Regions from separate parts of the Homo sapiens genome. Here region 1 is linked to region 2. Evidence: fine-mapped expression QTL. A gene starts in region 2. The other region holds a variant in brackets. All regions are shown on one strand. Distances are between the middles of the regions.

Region 1 (3,024 bases), 38 kb before region 2:
CCAACTCCTGGGCTCAAGTGATCTTGCAGCTTCAGCCTCCCAAGTAGCTGGGATTACAGGCACCCACCACCATACCCAGCTAACTTTTTAACTTTTTGCAGAGACAGGGTCTTGCTATGTTTCTAACTCCTGGCCTCAAGAGGTCCTCTCACTCTCAAAGCACTGGGAGTGCAGGTGTGAACCACCACACCTGGCCCATAATTATTTTTAATAAAGTGTTAGCCAAAATTCATTTATTTTGTAGTCACAAAAAATTTCATAATTCAAGTAAAACATACTTTCTGCAATGTGAAATTTTATATACATAAGATTAAACATTTTTCCATTAGCAAGAGGAAGATACTTCCCAGAAAAAGGAATCCAGAGTTTTCTACAAAGACCTCCTGGTCGGGCATTGTGGCGCATGGGCAACACAGGGAAACTCCGTCTCTACAAAAAAATACAAAACTTAGCCTGGCATGGTGGTGTGCGTCTGTGGTCTTAGCTACTTGCGAGGCTGAGGCAGAAGAATCACTTAAGCCTAGGCTATTGAGGCTACAGTGAGCCATGATTGCACCACTGCACTCCAACCAGGGTGAAGGAGCAGACCCTGTCTCAAAAACAATAATAATAATCATAATAATAATAAACCTTCCCAACCCCAGCCCCACCTTCCTCTGTCATCCCTTTTCTGTACTTTGATAGCAAGGCCTTTGTCATCTATGGAACAGAAAGGAAACAAAACGATACTACACATCAGGTATTATCTTGGTACTTCCTGTTGCTTCCAGTTACAAGGGGCTTTATTCCTGGGGATATTATAAAATGACAAAGCTTTCTACTTGATAATAATCCATAAATAAGAGACTATAAGAAACATAATCTTTCAGAAGAGGTGGCAGCCAGGCTTCTAAAGCAGTTATGTTGTGATGTAGGTTTCATATAAACACTTGAAACTAAAAAGCAAAGCGGGTGGGGGGTGGTAGAGGGTGGGGAGGTGGCACTGCACAGTTCCATAAACTCATCTTGTTCTAGGACTCAGGGAAAACATTCTTAAACATGGACAATTGGAACACTATAAAGAAAGATGTGCTGTTCTGCCTGAAAATAAAGCAGCTAAACAGAAAAATATATATCTGCCATGTAGGGCCCTGTGAAAATTCCAATTATACGTTTTTTTAAAAAAGATATCCACATGTTGTGTTGGTTGATTCTTGTTGCAGTCTCCCTAAGAATGGTCAAGCAGTCAGAATTAACCAAGAGAGACACTGTTCTCTAACGTGTGATACAATGGAATGTTTCTATAGGATATTCTTATACAACTTAATAACAAAAAATATTGTAGAAAAATAGTGTGCTACACATTCCCCTATTTTAAAAAGAAAGTACGTATTTATCAACGACACGTTATGATTGATTCAACATTTTAATTCTGTATTCCGTGTCCTAGAAAGCTTGAGACAGTATTTCAAATGAAAAGATCAGTGTGTAAATAAAGAGAAAACCCAATCAATTATCATGGTATCTAAAATCTACTTTCGTTTAACTAAAATATACCAGTTGTACTCTCTTCAGCTGTAGTACTACTGATTGTTGTGTTTGTTAGTAAAAAGAAAAGCTTCCCATAATTAACTTCCTGTTTTTCTACCTTTCACTGCCAAGGTTTTTAAAATGAATTTCTCATAATTAACACAATGCTATAAAACTAAGGCTTAAATCGAAATACCACGAATTCTCAGTAACCAATAATAATGATGGTTATGTTCTATCTTAATATTGATCAACTTGACTCACAGA[T/A]ATTATTAATGTAATCACACAAGACCTCAAGGGTTTTCAAAAAGAGTGATACTTGTATCTTGCAAAGAACAGAAATAGTAAATTATATAAACTACATTTTAAAAGAAAAAAGGCCTATAATCTCATCACTTTGGGAGGCCCAAGTGGAAGGATCACTTGAGGACAGAAGTTCAAGACCAGTCTGGGAAACATAGTGAGACCCATCTCTACAAAAATAAAAAATCTCCCAGGAGTGGTGTCACCCATAGTTCTAGCTACTCAAGAGGCTGAGGTGGGAGGATCACTTCAGCCCAGGAGTTAGTGAATACAATGAGCCATGATCACGCCACTGCACTCCAGCCTAAGTGACAGAGAGAAACACTCTGAAGAAATAACAACAGAATTAAGTAAAATTAAAAATTTGTTTAATTTTGAAAAGTGAAACTACTGAAATCCAAAAAATTTCTTGAGAATAAAATACACAACAAAATTCAATACAATGAAAGCACAAACATTTTTGAGCAAAGGATCTTATTCAAATTAAATAAAAACTATAAATGTACTTGGCAATTCACCTAAATGAATGTACTTAAAATGAAAGCAGCAAACAACTTCAAAGTCATCATCCTAAAGAGTACAAAATGTAATTAATATTGAATGGAATGGTGAAAAATATTAACACATTTTTGAAGCAAAAAATAAATAAGCTTTATGGAAGGAGACTAACTTAAAAATCAAAAATTAGACAATTCTAACTTACGTTAATAATTCACAGAAAAGAAATAGTGAAGAATCCTTCACTTCAGGGTTTCTTATTAGCTTGCAAATCCAAGTATAACTTAAACTCCAAGAGATCAATTTATGTTTTTTAAAAGTTATGTAAACACAATGCCACTTATTTAATTTTCCTCTTCTCTTACACTCCTATCATTTTTCTCTTCTCTGTTTTAGGAGGAAGAGAATTAAAATTTGTTTGGTGCCTAGTATGTGACAAGGCACTGTGCTTTATTCTTTACATTATCTCATTTAATCTTTACAACCAGCCCTATCAGCTTGATAGTATTATCCCTATTTATCTAAGGAGATATTTAAAAATCATGAAAACTGAATAAGTTACCTGAAGTCTGTAGCTATTTGTTAGGTGTTCTGGCCCCTAAGCCATGCTGCCTCTCTATATTGTAAGGCAATACTAAACATTAAGATACCACCTCTTGGCCAGGCACAGTGGCTTATGCTTGTGATTCCAACACTTTGGGAGGCCAAAGTGGG
Region 2 (2,500 bases):
GCGGGGGCGGGGGGTTCGCGGGGTTCGCGGGTTGCACAATATCCTAGAAGGTCCGCGGCTGGAGCGGACAGAGGAGAACCTGGGGCGGGGGAGGGGAGGAAAGGCGAGGCGAGGCAAGCTGCCCTGGCGCCTGCGGCACACGGTGCACCCAGGCCACCGCGGCGCTCCGCTTACCTTTCACCACCCTGTCGGTCGTCGACAACTTGGGATCAATTGCCTTGGGCTCGGACATCTCCAGCTGCCGGAGGACAGCGACGCGCTGCTCGTCCGTCCGACTGCACACCCCGACCGGACCGGCGGGCCAGACACTCAACGCCGCCGCCGCCGCCGCCGCCGCCGCGCTGCAAACCGCTCGGCTGGAGGTCTAGGCTCTGAGCTGGCTTTAAAGTTGCTGCCTTTTCCGCGCGTCCCTCCTCCGCCGCCGCCGCCTTCACTCCTCCTCCGCCGCTGCCGCCAGCCCCGCCGACTCGCTCCGGGCTGCGCGTGTGTGGTGGTTATTTATTTATTTTCTGAGCACGCCTCCCGGTTCTTCTTTTATTCTTGGGGGAAGGGGGATGGGGAGGAGAAGCGCACACACGAGCACCCACCCCGGCACGGAGACCCAGCACCGCGGAATGGAGCCCCACGCGCGCACACACGGCCAGGATTAAGACCGATCACATGGGGAAGGCCGGGGGCGAGGGAGGAGAGGCAGGGCCGCCGATGTCAGTGCCACCAGCCGCACCTTGGCGTCCCCGGCGGCGGAGAGGCGGCCGCCGCTGCTGCCGCTGCTGCTGCCGCTGCCGCTGTTGCTGCTGCCGCTGCCCCTGCTTCTCCACACAGAGCGCCGCCGCTGGTGCCGCGGCCGCCGGAGACGTCCCGCCGCCGCGATCGCCCGCGCTCGCCTCTGCCTCCCCGCGCCGCTCCTCCACTCACCAAGGCACAGCCGCCGAGCTCGGCAGACACAGTCCCGGGCACAACCTACCCCCCTCCGCCGCCGCCGCCGCCGCCAACACCGCGCCCGCCTCCGCCTCCTCCCCTTCCTCCTCCCGGCCCCCGCCTCTTGCGCGCCTGCAGCCTCCTCCTCCCCACTGAGCCCGCCCCCGACCTCCCGCCCCGACGCCGGAGTTCCTCGCGTTCATTGGCTAGAGGGCGCATCACTCAGTGCCAGGTGGCGGCCTCCCCGCTTGTCCCGCCTCCCGCTCCTCCTCATTGTCCCCGCCCCTTGCTCTGTTTTCTTCCAGCTGCCGGACCAGCGGGCCTGCCGCCTCTACGGACCAGTCCCTGCTCAGGTGTCACTTTTGCTGGCAGGCCGAGATTAGGGCAGGAGAGTGGGCAAGGCGTCGCGGCCAGGAGGAGAAGGGCTCTACCACGCCACCCTCCTTTGGCCTCCGAACGCGGACCCCGCACACACACACCCGCGCCTCTTTGGCAAGCGTGCCTTGTCGGCTGGGTTAAGCCGCAGTGTGAGTAGCCAAGTGCAGAGGGTGTCTCCGGGTGTGTGCGTGGCCCACAAGAGGGCAAGAAGAGAGAAGGCGGGGATAGGAGGGAAGAGGGTGGGGGTGAGAGGCAGCCCTGAGAGGGCGGAGGAAGGAAGAGGCTGGGAGCTCGGCGCCCGCGGCGCAGCTGCCGTCGCTGCCGCAGCTGTCCAGGGAGGATCGCCAAAACGGCGACGAATAAACAACTTACCTTGCGGAGAAGAGCTACGACTGCGATGCGGTGTACGGTTGTTTTTGCTTTTGCGTTGGCGGCTTAGGGGCTGTTACTGTGTCCCACCCAGGCGTGCACACCGAGCGGCGGGGCGCTGTGGAACGCGGGAGCGGACTAGCGGAGGAGGATGCGGACCAAGCCCCAGCGACCCAGGGCAACTCGGAGCTACCTCGGGCAGCCCTGCGGGTCTCCGAGGAGAACCGAGGAGACGGGAGAAACATGGGAGAGGGTGGCCTTTTCCCTGTTCACACACACATGCACGCAGCCACTGGCCGGGACAGTTGACACCCATCTTCCTTCCCTGCTCCTTCCAGTCATTCTACACCCGCTTGGTGCTGCCAGTGCGGGCAGGGCCTTGGAGCCCAAAGCGGATCCCCACACTTGTCCCTACGGTCGGAAGGAAAGTAGAGGAGAGAAAGTCAGGCGCGGCAGGGCTAAGAGCAATAGTGGCCCAAATGTTCCTGGCCCGCCTGCTGCGCCACAGAGTCTGAAAAGCGGGTCTCCGTCTACCAGAAGGTGACCTCCACACAGCCCCTCTCCCCGACCAACTGCAGCACCCAAGGACTGGCAACGTGGTTGGAGCTTTTGGGGGGAATTATGAAGAAATCTGAATAAATTTCTCACCCTTCATGTTTCCTGTTTTATTTCCAAAGTCCTTCAGTATCAGGTTTTTCCTATTTCCTCAATTGGACCACGGGTCCAATAAAAGGTTTAAAATACACACACACACACACACACACACACACACACACAAAGAAAACAAAAACAAAAAAAAAAGTTTAGGGAGCTGGGAGATGAAGCCAAAAGAAAT

The links.
Region 1: its variant is fine-mapped to the expression of PPP3CA-DT in whole blood (INTERVAL, PIP above 0.99).

Annotation. Positions count from the first base shown.
Region 1 is chr4:101,308,530-101,311,553 of GRCh38, forward strand. The region is part of intron 1 of PPP3CA (protein phosphatase 3 catalytic subunit alpha); the gene reads right to left. Among named protein-coding and RNA genes, the nearest start is that of MIR1255A, 20 kb to the right of the region's middle. The variant T/A (reference allele first, on the strand shown) is at 1,777.
Region 2 is chr4:101,346,565-101,349,064 of GRCh38, forward strand. It overlaps PPP3CA-DT (PPP3CA divergent transcript), which reads left to right and starts at 1,213. Exons shown (of 2, transcript NR_033874.1): 1 at 1,213-1,445; 2 at 1,760-2,319. It overlaps PPP3CA (protein phosphatase 3 catalytic subunit alpha), which reads right to left and starts at 962. Exons shown (of 14, transcript NM_000944.5): 1 at 175-962. The coding sequence starts at 232. RefSeq lists silencers at 1-117, 588-1,197.